Linked DNA regions of Homo sapiens. The protein of the gene in region 1 purifies or fractionates together with the protein of each later gene. This does not show direct contact. Each region holds a gene or a part of one and is shown in the gene's direction. Other genes may lie near its edges. The genes, in order: FMR1NB, ODR4, UFSP2 and CWC22.

The links.
Region 2: the proteins of FMR1NB (region 1) and ODR4 purify together in Homo sapiens (affinity purification with mass spectrometry; one large-scale study listed by BioGRID and IntAct). This does not show direct contact.
Region 3: the proteins of FMR1NB (region 1) and UFSP2 purify together in Homo sapiens (affinity purification with mass spectrometry; one large-scale study listed by BioGRID and IntAct). This does not show direct contact.
Region 4: the proteins of FMR1NB (region 1) and CWC22 purify together in Homo sapiens (affinity purification with mass spectrometry; 3 studies listed by BioGRID and IntAct, with this or other methods). This does not show direct contact.

The regions. Positions count from the first base shown.
Region 1 is NC_000023.11:147,997,592-148,002,512, forward strand, and holds part of FMR1NB (FMR1 neighbor protein), read left to right. Parts: intron 1-4,921.
Region 2 is NC_000001.11:186,395,963-186,400,883, forward strand, and holds part of ODR4 (protein odr-4 homolog), read left to right. Parts: intron 1-2,336; coding exon of another isoform or gene 2,337-2,350; coding exon 2,351-2,479; intron 2,480-2,991; coding exon 2,992-3,082; intron 3,083-4,921. UniProt on the Homo sapiens protein: May play a role in the trafficking of a subset of G-protein coupled receptors.
Region 3 is NC_000004.12:185,404,149-185,409,069, reverse strand, and holds part of UFSP2 (ufm1-specific protease 2), read left to right. Parts: exon of another isoform or gene 1-634; coding exon 635-799; intron 800-1,009; coding exon 1,010-1,134; intron 1,135-3,110; exon of another isoform or gene 3,111-3,213; coding exon 3,214-3,290; intron 3,291-4,921. UniProt on the Homo sapiens protein: Thiol-dependent isopeptidase that specifically cleaves UFM1, a ubiquitin-like modifier protein, from conjugated proteins, such as CD274/PD-L1, CYB5R3, DDRGK1, MRE11, RPL26/uL24, TRIP4 and RPL26/uL24.
Region 4 is NC_000002.12:179,951,192-179,956,112, reverse strand, and holds part of CWC22 (pre-mRNA-splicing factor CWC22 homolog), read left to right. Parts: intron 1-1,078; coding exon 1,079-1,156; intron 1,157-1,755; coding exon 1,756-1,908; intron 1,909-3,514; coding exon 3,515-3,642; intron 3,643-4,921. UniProt on the Homo sapiens protein: Required for pre-mRNA splicing as component of the spliceosome. As a component of the minor spliceosome, involved in the splicing of U12-type introns in pre-mRNAs. Promotes exon-junction complex (EJC) assembly.

The DNA.
Region 1 (4,921 bases):
GCCAAAATTGACAAATGGGATCTAATTAAACTAAAGAGCTTCTACTCAGTAAAAGAAACTATCATCGGAGTGAACTGGCAACCTATAGAATGGGAGAAAATTTTTGCAATCTATCCATCTGACAAAAGGCTAATATCCAGAATCTACAAGGAGCTTAAACAAATTTACAAGAGAAAAAAAAACCATCAAAAAGTGGGCAAAGGATATGAACAGACACTTCTCAAAAGAAGACATTTATGAGGCCAAAAAACATATGAAAAAAAACTCATCATCACTGGTCATTAGAGAAATGCAAATAAAAACCACAATGAGATACCATCTCTCGCCTGTTAGAATGGCAATCATTAAAATGTGTGGAAACAACAGATGATGGAGAGGATGTGGAGAAACAGGAACGCTTTTACACTGTTGATGGGAGTATAAATTAGTTCAACCATTGTGGAAGACAGTGTGGCAATTCCTCAAGTATCTAGAACCAGAAATACCATTTGACCTAGCAATCCCATTACTGGGTATATACCCAAAGGATTATAAATCATTCTAGTATAAAGACACATGCACACGTATGTTTATTGCAGCACTATTTACAATAGCAAAGACTTGGAACCAACCCAAATGCCCATCAATGATAGACTGGATAAAGAAAATATGGCACATATACATCATGGAATACTATGCAGCCATAAAAAAGAATGAGTTCATGTCCTTTGCAGGGACATGGATGAGGCTTGAAACCATCATTCTCAGCAAACTAACACAGGGACAGAAAACTAAACACCGCATGTTCTCACACATAAGTGGGAGTTGAACAATGAGAACATATGGACACAGGGAGAGGAACATCACACACCAGGGCCTGTCAGGGGGTGGGGGGCTAGAGGAGGGAGAGCATTAGGAGAAATACCTAATGTAGATGACGGGTTGATGGGTGCAGCAAACCACCATGGCCCATGTATACCTATGTAACAAACCTGCACATTCTGCACATGTATCCCAGAACTCAAAGTATCAAAAAAGACAAAGTTTATAAAGATTTGCCCTATGGCAAGTGATGTCAGCCGTGTTTGGTGTCATGGTAGGTTTGATATGTTACTCATTTTTTTCTTTTACACTTTCAAATAAACTCATAGCAAACATTAATATATCCATAAATATTCATCTATGTTCCACCTAAAATTCTTATGTACTACTAGTGATAGACTACACTTTGAGACATACTGCTCAAATTAATTTAAAAATAATTTTCTTTCAGAGTACGGAAGAAACCAAAGGTGGAGGGCAGGGTAAAATATATTCTAGACTTATGGTTGAGACTGCCACTGATGTTGCTCATCTTAGTTAAGATGTTTAATTGTCGCTTTCATTTCAATGCCCATTGTAATGACCGAAAGATCTATAAAGGGTGAAAACCTGGAGAACCTAGAAAGTTTCCATCTGGCATCTATATGCCAGAAACTTGGAGGGTTCTCTGAAAGATAAAAACATGATGGAGAGAAATCACAGCAACTTGTGTTTCATGTCAAGCCAAGGGCAAGCCTGTCCAGCAGGGTCTGGAGGCTAGGGCACTCTGAGTTGGGGACTCTAAGTTGGGGGATCAATATTCTAGAGGAATTCCAGAGAGCACATAACTTGCTGAATATAACTTAGGATGGAGACTTGGGCCTCAGTGTGCTACTGTCAGCCAACACTTACTTCAGATGGTGTGCTGAATCGAGTGGCAACAAGGACAGCAAATTGACGAAGGGGAACACTGAGCAAACAAACAGCAATATGGAACTAAAGTCTTGTCAAGGTCCCTTCCATCTGTAGCTCCCTTCTCATGTCATGTAGGACAGAGGGTTCTCTGATCTGGCAAAATGTGCCTAGCAACATTAATCTCATTTCTTGTCCTTGTGCTGGAAGCACTCTCCCAGGCCCTTTGTTCAGCCAGCTACTTCTAGTCTTTTTTTTTTTTCCACTTAAATATCATCTCCTCAGAGAGACTGGCTCCCATTTAAAGTAGCCCCCCTCCTTTATTCTGTATCAGTATCCACTTTTCTTCATAGCACTCATTACAATTTGTAATTACTTAATTTGTTAGTGGTCTGTCTTCTCCACTGCATTGTAGTAAGCTCCATGAGGGCAGGGATCTTGTCTGACTTGTTCACTGATATATCCTCAAAACACAGAATATAGTGGGTGTTCAATAATGAGTAAGCATTAGTAGAAAACAAGCAGGACAAAATGGATTATGTTTAATATTGTCAAGGTGTAATATATAGTGAAGATAAAATTGTCATGATTGAATATGCACTATTGGAATATATGAAACAAATAGTTTTAGAAATTTAAGTAGAAATCGTCAAAACCACAATCATGGTGAGATACTTTAATATTTATCTTTTAGTCCTTGACAGAAAAATAAAGATACAGAGCATTTGCATAATATAATTTAGCTTGATTTAACATTTATAATAGAGTTCATTGTGAGAGTACACATTCAAATGTATGTGTATGGAAGTTGCTCTCATTAAAATGAGAAAGAAGATATTATCATTGATATAAAGGAGATTTAAATATTACAAGTGAATAGTCTTATGATTCCATGCTAATAATTGCTTTGTAAATAGATGATTTCCTAGCAAAATAAAAATAACAAAATTAACTGTGACCATGAAGAAGCAAAAGATAAAGAACTACCCCTCTCCAAAAAATGAAGACTCAGACTTTTTCTGGATGAGTTTTCCCAAACCTTTAATGGATCAAATCATTCCTATATTGTTTCATCTGTTTTAGTCTAGAAAAGCAACAGGAAGCTTCCTAGGTTATTTTATGAATGAAACAGGTATAACTCTTATGCCAAAATTTACAGATGTAGCACACAAAAGAAAACTGCAGACACACTTCACTTAGGAATGTTGAATCATGAATCCTATATAAAACATTAGCACTTGTGGACTTTGTTCAAGAATGCAAGAATATTTTAATATTGGCAAATATATTAATAACATTCAATAATTAATAGGCAGGGGGAAATATCATCATGGCAGTAAATATTAAAAGGATTTGATAGAATCCCAGTTCTATCCCTGATTCAAAATGAAACAAAATAACAACAGAAAATTTGTAGAAAACTAAAACTAGAGAAATACATCCTTAATTTAATAAAGGGTATCTATCTTACACCAGCAGCCAACATTATACTTCATTATGAAATATTAGCACATTCCCATTAAAGTCAGGAATGACTCAAGAACGCCCATTATTATGGTTATTAATCAACATAGTTTAAACATTTCTAGGCAATACAGTGAAAGAAGAAAAATAATTCAGGTGTTAATATTGTAAAGAAAGGAGACAAAGTCATCTATATTTAGTGATAATATTATTGTCTATCTGGAATGAAACTGAAGAACAATGAGAACTAACGAGAGTTAACTAAGGGAGGAAGAAAATATATGTATAAAAATCAATAGCTCTCTTACATACCATCAATCCACTAGAAAATGTGGTGAAATGGATTATGTTCACAAAACAACAAAATATATATGATGCCTGGGAATAAATGTACTAAGAAAAGTGCAGGGCCTATCTGAATACAATGATAAACCTTATTCAGGGACATAAAAAGAGACTTGAATGAACAGAGAAACAAAACTACTTAGGTGAAAAAATTTTGTAACATTATCAATTCTCTCCAAATGAGTCTACATTTAATTGAATTCATGCCTAGCACGTGGGACACACAATAAATGATTTTTGAATGAATGATAAATAAGTGAACATAATTACCATAAAATTTAGAATTTTTTTTGACTTGACAAAACGATTTTAAGGTTCATCTAAAAAATTCTCAGAGCTGAAAATAAAATTTGATAGTAGAGACAATGAAAGGATTACCAGATCAGTTATTAAAACATAATGACATAAGATAGGCCGGGTGCAGTGGCTTACGGAGGCCTAGACAGGTGGATCACGATACCAGCCTGGGAAACATGGTGAAACCCCGTCTCTACTAAAAATACAAAAATTAGTTGAGCGTGATGGTGCATGCCTGTAATCTCAGCTACTCGGGAGGCCAAGGCACAAGAATCACTTGAACCAGGAAGGCGGAGGTTGCAGTGAGCTGAGATTGCGCCATTGCACTCCAGCCTGGGCAACAGAGCGATACTCTGTCTCAAAAAAAAAATAAAAGAAAAGATAAAATAAACAATAACATTAGTATTGGCACATGAATAGATAGGTTGGTGGAACAGAATAGAAAGTCAAGAAGCAGATCTATGACTATAAGGATATAGTAAGGATTTAGAATGTGATGATGTTATCTTAAGTATAACAGAAAAGGATGGATTTAATAAAGGGCCTTATGACTGCTGGAAAAATCGTATCCCTACTCCACAACACACTCCAAAATATACTCCAGGTGTATTAAATATTTAAATTTAAAAAGTACAACCATGAAAATGTTGGGAGTATTAGAGTATAGAATGCCTTTATAGAGGTAAAAATAATAAAGGAAGAGATTGATAGATTTAATTACATATAACATTTTAAGCTTCTGAGCTTCCCAAACACCATAAAAAAGTAAGGATAACCAATTACCTTGAAAAAAATATTTTAAATATGTGGCAGATTAAGAGTTAAGTTCTCTACTATGCAACACAATATGAAATATGTAAGCTCACTGATTATGAAAGTTGCAAATTAAAACAAAAGATATTTTGTTTTATTTTGGCCATCAAATTGGCAAATAATAAAAAATGGAGAGGTGTCAGAAAACTGGCACTTGCCTGTACTACTGGTAGAAGTGTATTTTAGGGTTGCCCTGCTGGAGGGTAATTTGGACATACTCAAGAGCCACCATGCCTTAAGAATTTATCTTAAGTAATTTTTCATGAATATTTGCAAATATATAAATATAAAGCTTCAGTGATAATCATTG
Region 2 (4,921 bases), on another chromosome or scaffold:
TACCTCTTATTTTCTAGATGTATGCTTGCCATACCTTTAAAGCTCTGTATTTCCTGAACTATGTATCATGTCTTTGCTCTTTTCTCTGTCACCCAAACTGTCAAAATCCTATCTGTACATTAAGATCTAGCCCAAATGCCACTACTTGTGTAAGATTTCATTTGGTTCCCATAGAAATGGGGATCTTCTCTTTTTCAAATGCCATGTCAGCATCATAGAAGTTCCCTCACCTATAGGCTGTTTGGCAGCCAGGTTATTCCTAAGTCCAAATAACCAAGAGGAGTTTACATTTGTAGACCCCAACTGGTCTACATTTCCACCTAAAAGGAATGAGTCAGACCTTACATTCTTTAAAACTTTTCCTGGCTGAGCATGGTAGCTCATGCCTGTAATCCCAGCACTTTGGGAGGCCTAGGCAGGGTGATCGCTTGAGCCTAGGAGTTCAAGATGAGTCTGAGCAACAAGTGAAACCCTGTCTCTACAAAAAAATACAAAAATTAGCTGGGGGTGATGGTGTGTGCCTGTAGTCCCAGCTACTTGGGAGGCGAAGGTGGGAGGATCGATTGAGCCTAGGAGCTTGAGGCTGCAGTGAGCTCTGATAGCATCACTGTACTCTAGGCTGGATGACAGAACAAGACCCTGCCTCAAACAAAACAAAATAAAACTAACCAACCAACCAAAAAAATACCTCTTTTCTTTAATATGTGTGTGTATAGTCTTTAATAGTCTAGTCTGTTTTGGATAACAATGCCATAATTATAGATAGATAGATAGATAGATAGATAGATAGATAGATATATGTATATACACACATACACATATATTTACATATACTAATATATAAATGTGTTATATGTTAAAAATATATAAATTATATGTTAAATATGTAAAATAGGACATTCTTTTTAGAGTAGTTTTGTCTACAATAAAAAGTTATGGAGTAGATAGGGGAAGCCTGTTACTCCTCCTCCAACCCCACCTTATTGATGTATCAATGAACTCTACATGTGTCATATGGAAGCTTATTCCAGACATTGTATCAGCATCGTCACACTGCTGCTTGGTTTGATGATAGCCATTTTTGAATGGACCCAGGACCTTTGGAGCTGTGTGGTCTGTGGCAAATTTTTTGTCAACAAGTCCTTGACCATCTTAAAGTTTAAATTGTTTAACAACACCTAGAAGATTTACATTGCCTTAGACATTGCTTGAATTACACTAGACATCAATAATGCTCTTTCAATAGCTATGCATGTCAGTATTCTCCTCTTCATTATTTTTCCGCATTTATTCCTGATTGCATAAGCACATAGGCACAAAGCACTTTTCACAAGTTGTATGATTTGACTTTTGTTCTTCAGAATTGATTTGGTTGTTGAATGACTTATACTCCAAGTGTTCTTAGAACATAAATTACTTCCTTACCATTTCCATTTTTTGGTTATTTTTTGTAAATCATTATTTTTTGTTTCCACTGTTATTATAGGCCTCTATTACAGGTTGAGTGTGCCTTATTTGAAATGCTTAGGACCAGAAGTGTTTTGGGTTTGGGATTTTTTTTAGATTTTGTAATATTTGCAGAATACATACCAGTTGAGCATCTCTAAGCCAAAAATCTAAAATCTTATATGCTCCAATTACCTTTTCCTTTGAACATCACATTGGTGCTCAATAAGTTTTGGATTTTGGAGCATTCAGGATTTTTAGATTAGGGATGCTCAACCTGTAGTACTTTAACTATTTTGATACTGTCCTTGTTTTTGGCACTTATTAAGATGATGGGGTTGAAAATATATGTGAAACACCTGAAAACCGAACAAGAGCACTGGCATTCCTTAGACTAAAGAGGATGGGACTAGTCTATGAAAGTTTTTGGTTGAAAGTGTGTAAATATATGTGTCTGTGCATTGCTTGTAGTTTTACCATAGTTATCACATCCCACTTTGTATTTGTTATTGTGAACTTATTTTGCATTGCACAACTTATATCTAGTACATCATATCTTCTTTGTATATCTTTTAATCATCACAGTACTGATGTGAATAATTTGCAAATAATATATTTTTAGGAGCATATCGAGTGAATATTGAACCATTTTAGATGGTTATGTTAGAAAAATTTAGATGTAGTTGTGTTTAATTTCATTATATCTTCAAAATGACTGGAAAATAATATATAACTTATAAAAACAAATATGAAGGCCTTTAAATAATTTGCAGAGAATAATTTCAAATGCTTGGCTCAGTCAAAACTTTGTTCTCTCTTCATAAAATCGCTAATATAATGTTTAAATATTTCCTGTAGTTAATCATTGTTGGTTATTAGAACTTAAACAGATTTTGTCTTTCAGCTCCTGAATTCAGACCACAGATCCACAGCCACAGTCCAGATATGTAGCGGTTCTGTAAACCTTAAGGGTGCTGTGAAATGCAGAGCTTATATCCACAGCAGTAAACCCAAAGTTAAAGATGCTGTGCAGGTACAAAAAGGAATAACGAGCATATGGAACCATGTTAACTATTAACAAAAACCTAAAATTTTACCATTTTTTAATCTTATATTTTGTAATTATTAATTCGATTTTAACTGATAATGGCCTATTGTGCAGTCCAAATGTACCATATAATTGGTGTGAAGATTTTCATATGTAGAGTATCTATTTTGTGCCTTTTTAAAAATGATGGCTATACAAGTTTAGTAAGTGTTCCACTGTTATACATATTAGTATCTAATTTGGAACACTGCAATTATTTTTTTAGATGTGAAATTTTATTCATTTATCTGTTTTTAACTATTTAGATAAATTTATCATTAAACTATAAATTTGTTAATAAGTGTGCTAAATAAGTGGAAATAAAACATTGAATGATGTATCAGTTATTTAGTGGGCATGATTGTACTGGAAAGCAAATTATTTTTTTTGTTAGTTAAATATTGTAAATCTAAAGTATTTTATTTCTTACTGTGTTTTTTGTGTGTTTTTCCCTGTAGGCAGTAAAGAGGGATATATTGAACACAGTTGCTGATCGTTGTGAAATGCTATTTGAGGATCTGCTTTTGAATGAAATTCCAGAAAAAAAAGTTATGAGTATAAAATAAGTACTTTTTTGCGTATCTTCAACTGATATAGTAATAAGATATCAAGATATAGCAGATACGTCATCTTTTATAGCTACCTATCTATATTTTCAAGCAGTATATCATCTTTTATTATTGGATGAAAATTTTTCAGTTGCTACTCAGATTTTTTTTTTTTTTTTTAGACAGAGTCTCACTGTGTTGCCCAGGCTGGGGTGCAGTGGCACAGTCATGGCTCACCTGCAGCCTCAGCCTCTTGGGCTCAAGCAGTCCTCCTACCTCAGCCTCCCTAGTAGGTGGGCCTGCAGGCACATGCCATGATGCCTTGCTAATTTTTGGTATTGTTTTTTTAGAGACAGGGTTTTGCCATGTTGCCCAGGCTAGTTTCAAACTCCTGAACTCAAGTGATCCACTGTCTTTGGCTTCCCGAAGTGCTGGGATTACAGGTGTGAGCCACCATGCTTGGCTCTAGAAAAACGTTTTAGAACACTATCAAATTTAGCAAATTTGTCAACAATTAAGAATTTCAGGGAGGATTTTTAAAAAAATTAATTCCAAGTGAACTTCTCCTGCCAGAATGAGTAAACTTTGTTAACATTTTAAAGTTAGTATTTTTTGTTGATATCTATGAGTATTTTAAATAATTTAGCCATAATCAAAATATTATTAGTGTTAAATACTATATAATAGCTCCTTTAGTAGGTACTATTTATATAAACTACACTAGTTTATATGCTTCTCAGCTATTACTCTAACAGACTTCATTACGTTTAAAAAAGGCTGAGTTACAGTATCTTACCCATTAATAACGATTGCAGCTTTTGGGAAACATAACAATTTATACCATCGCAGTAATCTGTATTAAAAAATTTTTTTAATCAAAAGCAAGTTAAAATATTGAGTACACTTTTTAAAGCTACATCATCATCTCCCCATTCTTTTTTTTTTTCTTTTTTTTTTTTTTTTTTTGAGACGGAGTTTCGCTCTGTCGCCCAGGCTGGAGTGCAGTGGCGCGATCTCGACTCACTGCAAGCTCCGCCTCCCGGGTTCACGCCATTCTCCTGCCTCAGCCTCCTGTGTAGCTGGGACTACAGGCACGCGCCACCATGCCCGGCTAATTTTTGTATTTTTAGTAGAGACGGGGTTTCACCGTGTTAGCCAGGATGGTCTCGATCTCCTGACCTCGTGATCCGCCCGTCTCGGCCTCCCAAAGTGCTGGGATTACAGGCATGAGCCACCGCGCCCGGCCTCCCCATTCTTATTATTCTGATGTTAGTGGATTTGCAATTCACATTTAGATATGTACATAATTGAAACATTCATATTAGCTTCGGGTTCCAGCAATTCTCCTGCCTCAGCCTCCCGAGTAGCTGAGATTACAGGTGCCCACCACCACGCCTGGCTAATTTTTGTATTTTTAGTAGAGACAGGGTTTCACCATGTTGGCCAGGCTGGGCTCGAACTCCTGACCTCAGATGATCCACCCACCTCGGCCTCCCAAAGTGCTGGGATTATAGGCATGAGCCACCATGCCCAGCCCACATTAGCTTTTGAAGGGAATATTTTTATGTTCATAGGAAAAAAAGCATAGCTCCTCTATATAACCAACTTCTTTTAGTACTACTGATAGCTAGTATGTTAAGTTTGATGGACTAATTATAATCTTTTTTTTATATTCCTAGTATGCTGGATTCTATGATTGGCAGATTTAACATTTATCCTTCTCGTAATTCACAACCCTAAAGTTCCATTTACTAATAATTTATAATTTTGCTGGAACATGAATTTGAATCTTACATGCAACAATTGGATTGAGAGTTTTGGGAGGGCAGTATGTGGGACC
Region 3 (4,921 bases), on another chromosome or scaffold:
GCTTGGGCCCAAAAATGGATAAGACACAGTGTATGTACTCACTGAGCTCACATATTAGTGTAAGTAGGCAGATATTTTTTAAATGATAAGTAATGTATCATTTAAAGTATATCAAGTCATGATATACTTTGAAAAATAAAAACATAAAGAGGACAGAGATGACAGGTGAGGCAGGGGGTGGGGTAGTGAGAGAATGAGTGGGCCGTTTGTAGACTGGATGGTCAAGGAAGACCTTTGACATCTAAATGGAAACCTGAGTGAAGTAAGAGTGCAAGCTGTACAATTAATTTGGGAAAAGAGAGTTCCAGGCCAAGAGAACCATGAGGCTCCAAGGTCATATTGCCCCTGGTATATGGGAACCGAAAGTAGAGGGAGCAATAGGGAAAAGTTTAGGAGATGAAATTGGAGAGGAGGCCAGAAGGTAGGTCCTGCTGGGCCCTGTGGTAAGGACTTTGAACCTCAAATAAAAAGCCAAGAAGGTATAATGTTAAACCATAGATCTGTGAAGGCATTTTTATAAGGAACTAAAGTAACAGTCTAACTCTAAGAACATTAAACATAATTCGGGAGCATATATAGAATATGTACTTCTATCCTAAGTTAATATTTTACTGTGTTTCTTCTCTGTATATAGATTTATGTGGTCCAGGGCATATATGGCTATCATCATTATATGCAGGATCGCATAGATGACAATGGCTGGGGCTGTGCTTATCGATCTCTGCAGACTATCTGCTCTTGGTTCAAACATCAGGGATACACAGAGAGGTCCATTCCAACACACAGAGAAATTCAGCAGGTACAGAACATACCGTTTTAAATTATAATCAACTGTATGTTTCATTAGCCCTTAATATACCATTGATAATTTTTGTTACCTCATGGTGCAGACTTATTTCTGTTTTGAAGAAAAAAAAATTCTTGTACTGGTAATCAGGGAAAATGCCCTAAACATCGTTTTTAATAGCTGTCTTGTGTATGGATGTTTTATATTTTTAAATACATCAAGGCTCTAGTCGATGCCGGGGACAAACCAGCAACATTTGTCGGATCGCGGCAATGGATTGGATCTATTGAGGTGCAGCTGGTACTAAACCAATTGATCGGTATAACGTCAAAAATCCTGTTTGTCAGGTAAGCACACTTTAAGAAATTAGATAAATCATTTCAAAGTGACAGTCTGTCATTTTAATTAAAATAATAGAAAAAATGGTATCTTCCCTTATTTCTTTTTATTCCTTTTCCTTCTTCCTTATTACTCATTGCTTTATAAATCTCATTTTTTAATCTTAATTTTTTTTCATTTTTTTTTGGAAGGCTCTGATTTTATGAATAAACTTTGTGATGTAATGTATACTTGTATTATTTAGGCCTAATTTTAGCCTAGAAGAGGAAAACTTAAAAATATATTAACGTTGAGTAAAGTCATAAAAATTATATTAACAGTTTCTTTATGCTCCAATCTTTTAAAAAGTCTTAAAAGGCAAAACTCAAATGTTGAACTATGACTGACCTTTTTGTTTACCTCCTGCTCTTTTTCTTTCTAAAACGTTAATAATCTAGTAATGTGTTCAAATAATGTATTCATTTTGTCTTTTCCAATGATCTTAACCATAATTCTAATATTAAAATGAGAAAATATAAATTAATTATTTTCTATGACCATAACTAGCTGACTCCTGATTGTATGAGCTTATGTTTTAAAATACATTTTCTAGCCAGGTGCAGTGGCTCACGCCTGTAATCGTAGCACTTTGGGAGGCCGAGGTGGGTGGATCCCCTGAGGTCAGGAGTTTGAGACCAGCCTGGCCAGCAGAGCAAAACCCTGTCTCTACTAAAAATACAAAAAAAATTAGCTGGGTATGGTGGCGCATGCCTGTAATCCCAGCTACTTGGGAGGCTGAGGCAGGAGAATCGCTTGAACCCAGGAGGTGGAGGTTGCAGTGAGCCAAGATCATGCCACTGCACTCCAGCACAGGCAACAAAGCGAGACTCCCTTTCAAAAAAAAAAAACAGAAAAATACATTTTCTAAAAAAAAAAAAAAAAAAAAAGAAAAGCCAAAAAACAAATAAAATACATTTTCTATTGTTAATTACAGTAACATCGTCCTCATTGTATCTTTTATGTGTTAAAGATGTAATTTTATCCTTTCCTCAGTGGTTATGGAAATCAGTGGTAAAAAAATGACAGACTGGCTGGGCACAGTGGCTCACGCCTGTAATCCCAGCACTTTGGGAGGCCAAGGTGGGTGGATCACCTGAGGTTGGCAGTTTGACACCAGCCTGGCCAACATGGTGAAACCCTGTCTCTACTAAAAATATAAAAATGAGCCGGGCATGGTGGCACACGTCTGTAATCCCAGCTACTCAGGAGGCTGAGGAAGGAGAATCGCTTGAACCTGAGAGGCGGAGGTTGCAGTGAGCTGAGATCGCGCCACTCCACTCCAGCCTGGGCAACAGAGCGAGCCTCCATCTCAAAAAATAATAATAATATAAAACAATGACAGACTTAAGTAGTGAAGAACTTTTTTTAAAAGTTACAGTTTTGGTACATTAAAACATACGTTCCTCATTAAGCAAGAGCTAAGGTTTAGCACCACCGGGCACCTTCCCCCAAAAAATACCTCCCTTCATTATCCCATCTATCTTTCTCTTTTCAAAAGTAAAAATTCTGAGATTCCCTAAAAATAGTATGTTGCACTTGAAAACATTTTGCAGTTTTCACATTGATTTCACAGACATGTATTTTAGGCCTAGACTCTCCTCTGTTATGTAGACAGGTCAGCGTTTTGGGTCCCAATTTAAAGATGAGGAAATACAGACTAAGAAGTCTACCAGCAAGAAGGCAAGAACCCAGGACTTAACACTCATTCTTCTGATTAATCCATCCATAAGAACTCCCTGAGCACCAAGGTGATGTTTTAACTTCATGTTAAAAACCCAGGCCTCCTTTATACAGTTCAAGAAGCAGAAAATCAAGGTCTTTTAGCGTCTTATCTAGCACACTTGGTGGCCTTAAGTATTTTGAGTTTATGTTGCTTTAAATTGCACAGTTTAATTGCTCTCAGTTCCCTAACACTTAATTTTTTTACATTTATATATTTTTTCAGTAACACCCGAAAAAACAAGAAAGTAGGAAACATTGTCTCCTAGCTCATTATTTGACCGTAGTGTTGGAAGTAGTTCATCTGATAGAAAATGGTTTCTTTCTAGCCAAGGTTCAGAAATTGCCTCTCAAGGACGGGAACTGGCTAATCATTTCCAAAGTGAAGGAACTCCAGTTATGATCGGTAAGCTGTTTCAGACACTGTTTTTGGTAGAGTGAGTAATATGCAAAACTTATCATTGATATAAATATTTAATGTTGCATAAAATCAGTCATTTAAAAAATTTTGAAATTAACTTTTACACCATATGTATGGATCTCTGGATATTGAAAAAAATTTCTAAGGTGGCTTAAAGGTTACAAAAAAGATTATAATAACCAGAAGAAGTAAAGGCTGAGAAATGGTAGCTATGTTCAAACATTTAAAGAGCTGAGAACAGTATTAAAAAGAGGAAACGGTCACTCAGCTGAGCTTCGTAAGTCATGACTCTGTCATAACTGGGCTGGCTTTGTGAGATTTTGCAATTACTTACCTCTGTGGATTTTATTTGTAAAATAAGAAGATTGGATTAGCTGATCTAAAGATGCTTAATTCTTTGAAGAACAAGACCTGTCCTGTGATGACAGAAGGCAAGGTGAGACTAGTGTGTAAGAAATGGAGGTAGAAGCTGGGCATAGTGGCTCACACCTGTAATCCTAGCACTTCGGGAGGCTGAGGCAGGAGGATAGCTTGCATCCAGGAATTCAAGACCAGCATGGGCCAGACCGCGTCTCTACCAAAAAAAAAAAAACACACAAATTAGCTGGCATGGTAGTGTGAGCCTATAGTGCCAGCTATTCAGGAGACTGAGGTGGGAGGATTGCTTGAGCCCAGGAGGCTGCAGTGAGCCAAGAGATCCACTGCTCTCCAGCCTGGGTTACAAAAGTGAGACACTGTCTCAAAAGAAAAAAAAAAAAAAAAGAAATGGAGGTAGGCTGATGTCAGCAAAATATCAGAAAGAACTTAATGAGTAGGCCGGGCCCAGTAGCTCACGCCTGACTCCTGATTGTATGAGCTTATGTTTTAAAATACATTTTCTAGCCAGGCACAGTGGCTCATGCCTGTAATCCAGCACTTTGGGAGGCTGAGGCGGGCGGATCACTTGAGGCCAAGAGTTCGAGACCAGCCTGGCCAACATGGCAAAACACTGTCTCTACTAAAAATACAAAATTTAGCTGGGTGTGGTGGCACACACCTGTAATCCCAACTACTTGGGATGCTGAAACAGGAGAATCGCTTGAGCTGTGAGGTGGAGGTTGCAGTGAGCCGGGATTGCCCACTGTACTCCAGCCTGGGTAGCAGAGCAAGACTCTGTCTCAAAAAAAAAGACTGGGCACAGTGGCTCACGCCTGTAATCCCAGCACTTTGGGAGGCCAAGGTGGGTCGATCACGAGGTCAGGAGATCGAGACCATCCTGGCTAACAGTGAAACCCCGTCTCTACTAAAAAAAAATACAAAAAATTCGCTGGGTGTGCTGGTGTGCGCCTGTAGTCTCAGCTACTCAGGAGGCTGAGGCAGGAGAATTGCTTGAACCTGGAAGGCAGAGGTTGCAGTGAGCCGAGGTCACGCTATCGCACTCCAGCCTGGGTGACGTGAGACTCTAGCTCAAAAAAAAAAAAAAAAAAAAAAACTTAATGAATGGAGTGCTATATCACTGGAGGTACTCAGAGGCAGCAGGACCATCTGCTGAGAGAGGCACTACAGCAGATTGTTACTCTGTTGGGAGGAGTTTATGGCCCTTTCTAAATCCATTTTAGGTAATTATATGGATGTGA
Region 4 (4,921 bases), on another chromosome or scaffold:
TCCTGTGTTAGTAAATATGACAAAATGTCAAAATTGTTCATTGAAAATATAAAGGTAAAAATTAAAAAGCAACACGTTTTTATATGCTTGCTTTCTGTTTGCACAAAGCAAGTATATTACAGTTACTCTATTTGGAAAATTGTTTTAAGTTTCTGGTAAATCTTTATAGAAAAGATTACACTGATCGTAGATGAATTAACACCTTTTTTCATTTTGTCTCTATTCACCTTATGTTGCTTGAGTTTTTTCATCTATGACATTGCTATAATCAATACATATTTCATTTGAATTATTTCAGGAATTAATATATTAATTAAGAAACTAATTTGTTAAGTAGAAATCATCTGTGATGATAGTATTTCTTGACTGGGCATTTATCCATTAGTTTAACAGAATTTTCAGAGAGGTTTACATGGCGCCTGAATAGCTAATTGGAATAATATACTAGCAGTTATGGAATGATTCCATTTATTTGTATAGATCCATATAGATAGGTCTATATGAATAACATTTATTTTGAGGTGAGAAAATTCATCCACAGAGGTGTTTTTTGATGTTTCTTTATCAACGTTAACTTTATGTTAACGTTGAAGTTGTACCTACTTATGCCTCTGTAAAGACTAATAATGATCTGCCTTTTCCATGCTAAATATATTCCTTAGCAATTGAATTCATATCCTTGGGACATATGTAACTGAATTGTTAGATGTTGTGTTGGTGAGTCTATATTTAAAAGAATTCTGCATAGAATCCTTTAAGAATGCAGTGTATTAAATCTCTCCCTCATATGTCTGTTTCCTATACTAGATTTTCTTGATGTGGTTCATACTTATCATGAATTTAGAATTTTATAATTAATGTAATTAGCATAAATGACTGTGGAAGCTGTCAGCCAGACCCAAGCCTGTAAAAAATGATGAGTTTAACATAGATTGAGGTTTTTATTTTATTTACAAAATTTTTGAACTGTTTTAAACCCTTATTTAAAAATGCAGGCAGTCACTATCATACTGGTAAATTATACAATATTTAGTCTCTTTGTGTTTTGAATCATTAATGTATTTTTTTTCCCAAATAGAAAGAACTCTGCAACATGATACTTGATTGCTGTGCCCAACAGAGGACATACGAAAAATTTTTTGGCTTATTAGCTGGGGTGAGTTCCAGCCTCTACTGAGGGAATTCTTAAAACGAATATTGTAAATTAATGATTTCTGCTTTATGGTCTGGTCTCATTTAAAAACATATTACCACTTTTGCTAAAAGCAAATTATTCTCTCCTTCCTCAGGTTTCCCACTCTCTTCACCTTCCTCTTTTTCTACTTCATTTTTGCAGTGCTTTAACTTTGCATATCACTTTTCCAGAGCTTTTTGGAATTTTCCATGATTTGTAATGATTTCCCAATAGACGACAAGTAAATGCTGTCTTTTCAAAATCTCAAAGCAGTGTCTAAAGTCAAGTACATGTTCAGGCAGCACAATTAAAGCATGATCTAAAATATTTCTTTAAGCTCTACCCTCATGTGATCACCTACATGTATGATTTTGTTTTAACATGTAAATCTCAGGTAATTAGAAACCATATATATTAACTTCTTTTTTGAGCATCATATGGCACAAAAGGATTTAGTGATATATGCTCTTTGAAAATATAAAGCATATTAATAAAGTTTTGATTCAGTAAATTTAGGATTTAATATGCTCATAATTGTATTAACATTCAATTTTTAATGGTACTGATTTTTTATTTATTAGCGATTTTGCATGCTAAAGAAAGAGTACATGGAATCCTTTGAAGGTATATTCAAAGAACAGTATGATACCATCCATCGCTTGGAAACAAACAAGTTGCGAAATGTTGCTAAGATGTTTGCTCACCTTTTATACACTGATTCACTTCCATGGAGTGTAAGTACATGGGTCAATATTTATACTTCCTTCCTAATTCCCTGTTCTCAAATAGATTTTCGTATAAGCTAGCCATATTTATCCTATTATGAAATGTGCTTTAAAATGAAATGTGTAGAACTGCTGTCTTTGAGATTATCATCATGTTATAAGGAATCAGAAAGCTAGGTAAATAATATACAAGAAATACTATCTTTGTATTATATTAACAGTCCAAACATGCCAGTGTTTCGATAGTGATGGCTAGGAGTGTCTTCAGGAAAAGTACTGCAGATTTTCATCTTCTCTGTGTACACACACGTGCATGCACACTCACATCCACATATGCCACTATTTTGGTGGTAAATGTGTCTCTGAATTACTCTCCCTTGATTCCTGAGGGAATAACTCTCCATGGTTCTCTTGTTGGGTTTGAGAAAAAATGATTGTTCTAGAAGGATGTGTTCTTTTTAGCAGACATTGAAGTTGGGTAAGCTATAGAGAGGATATCCTATAGTCATAGAACAAAGAAAGATATATTCTTGATAGGGAAATGTGCACTGGATTGAAATTTGAAAGGCGTTCATTAAGCTGGCATTGATTTTACAGCTGTTTTTCAACCAGTGTTAGTTAGCCACCACTTATATACTGAGTCATTGAGAGAGGTGCTGTGTATTCAGAGTGAATTATACATGGCCCCTCCTTTCAAGAGGGTTACAGTATAAGACCAGAGGTAAGATATGCCCATAGCAATGATACAAAATAAAAAGTCTTAGATTCTAAGAAAAGCAAAATTACTAAAGGAATTTGAAAGAAAGAAAGAGAGAAGGATGAGAAATTACATCCAGGAGGAAAGAACAGGATTATCTTGTAGAATGCCATCCTACTAATGGTAGAATGAGGCAATATCTCAAACTTAAAAACATTGGTTAGATTTTTATAGTACTTTAAGTACCAAGTATGTCCAGCTACATTAATAGGCATTCGTAATCTAACCTAGGAGACTAATTGTAATAATTTTTGACTTCTTTTTTCCCCTCTTTGAGAAAATGAAGTGAGAATTTTAAACAATTAACCAACTAATGGGCCCCCCAAACACATAACCCATAAAAACTAGAGGTTACTTTTATTTTTATTTTCCCTAAAAATATTTCTTTAGGCATTTCAGTTTTTAAGCCACAGTCTTAATATTCAGAATAAACCATTATACTTTCTGTCTTTTTTTAAATCGTATGTTATGTGTGCTAAACAAAATTGTAGCCTAATGTGCTAAGTGGCATTTTGCCCCAAACCTTCATATACACCACATTTTGATGAGTAAGGTTTAGGAGCTAGTAATCTTTACCATTATATGCTCAAGAGAGGATATCTTCCCTGCTATAAAAAGCACATTACTCAAAACAGAGAATGAAATCTATTTCTGTCGCATCTTAACATTTTGAAAGTTAGTATAGAGAAGTAGTTTTAAACTTTATGTCAGCATAAGGGGAGATATTCAGAGATAACTCTGGTTGAAGATGGGAATAAATAGTAATTTTGAGAAACACTTAAACCTACAAATATTGGTCACTATGTCCTGTCTTTTATAAATTAAAATATACTTGTCTTTTTTTATTTTAATTTTCAGGTTCTTGAATGTATAAAACTGAGTGAAGAAACCACTACATCATCCAGTAGAATTTTTGTCAAAATATTTTTCCAGGAACTGTGTGAATACATGGGTCTTCCTAAACTTAATGCAAGATTAAAGGATGAGTAAGTTTGCCATTAAGCACTTTTTATTCTTATTGACCTCTGGTTTTCTCCCATTGTAGCAGACATAAGCCCATCCGAGACTGTAAAAACAAGAGCTAAGCCCCCTGAGACTTTCTTCATCCATTAATCACTGTGAATTTCATGTTATGTCACACAGGACAACATGCAACTTTTAGTGGTGGTTTTTAGTTTAAGTGGAGTTCAAATTAATGCCTTTTTAGATTTTCTTAGAAAATACAGAATTGTTTTTGTATGCTCACTTGAATTCTCCAGTGATATTTATAATTTTATTTTCTTTTTACCCTAATTTTAAGCCTTAGAATGATAACTAATATTATCAGTGGACAGTTTTGAGTATATATTTCATCTATTAATAATTGTTCAAAATATTACATAGAACTAGAGCCTTATTTCAGGATTATTATGTAATCCCCTCTCACCTTTCTTATTTCCTGTTTGTTCAGATTGCCACTTAGGTTGACTTCTACTCCATTGACACTACTGAAATCATCCTTTCAGATTTCTCAGTGACCACCTGCCATATTCAGTTGTCTTTCTCAGGCTGCATGCCTCTTCACTTCTCTGCCTCACTTATGCAGTTGACTACCTACTCACTGTGGCTCCATACTTTCTTCTCACTTCCTCTCTCAGTCTTCTCCTCAGCCTGCCTCTTCAGTGTTCCTGGGTTCCACACACTGTCTCTGGACTATTCCATCCACTTCTCTTGGCTTCATATACTTACTTATTTGGTCCCTGTCTACTTGACCAGGCTCGTCTTCTCTCTCTTCAGCAAGCTGCACTCCAGCCATACCAACACTGCCAAGCTTGTTAAACATATCTGGCTCTTTCATGCTTCCTTACCTCAGTTTCCACTGCTGGCATTCTCCTGTCTTATTGATCTATCTGGGAAACTCTTAATCATTCTTCTTATATTGTACCTTTTTCTGTGAGAAAGTTTTTTCTGACTCCACTGAGTAGTTACTCAGTGTGGTGCTGAAAACCAAATGTCCAAAACCACCTTGTATTGTTAGTGTCTTTCTGGTTGTCTCACTCCATATATATTGTAATTATATGGTCTTCATCCTTGATTTCTCCCTTTTGTTGATGACTTCCACCTCTCCCCCAGTACTTGGCACAGTTCTATGTATGTGTGTGTACGTGTACATACACAACAGAGAAGGTTTTTAAAATTTTTTGTACATATATTCACTATATATACGTGTGTGTATATATATACACTATATATATTCACACGTGTATATATGTGTATATATTTATC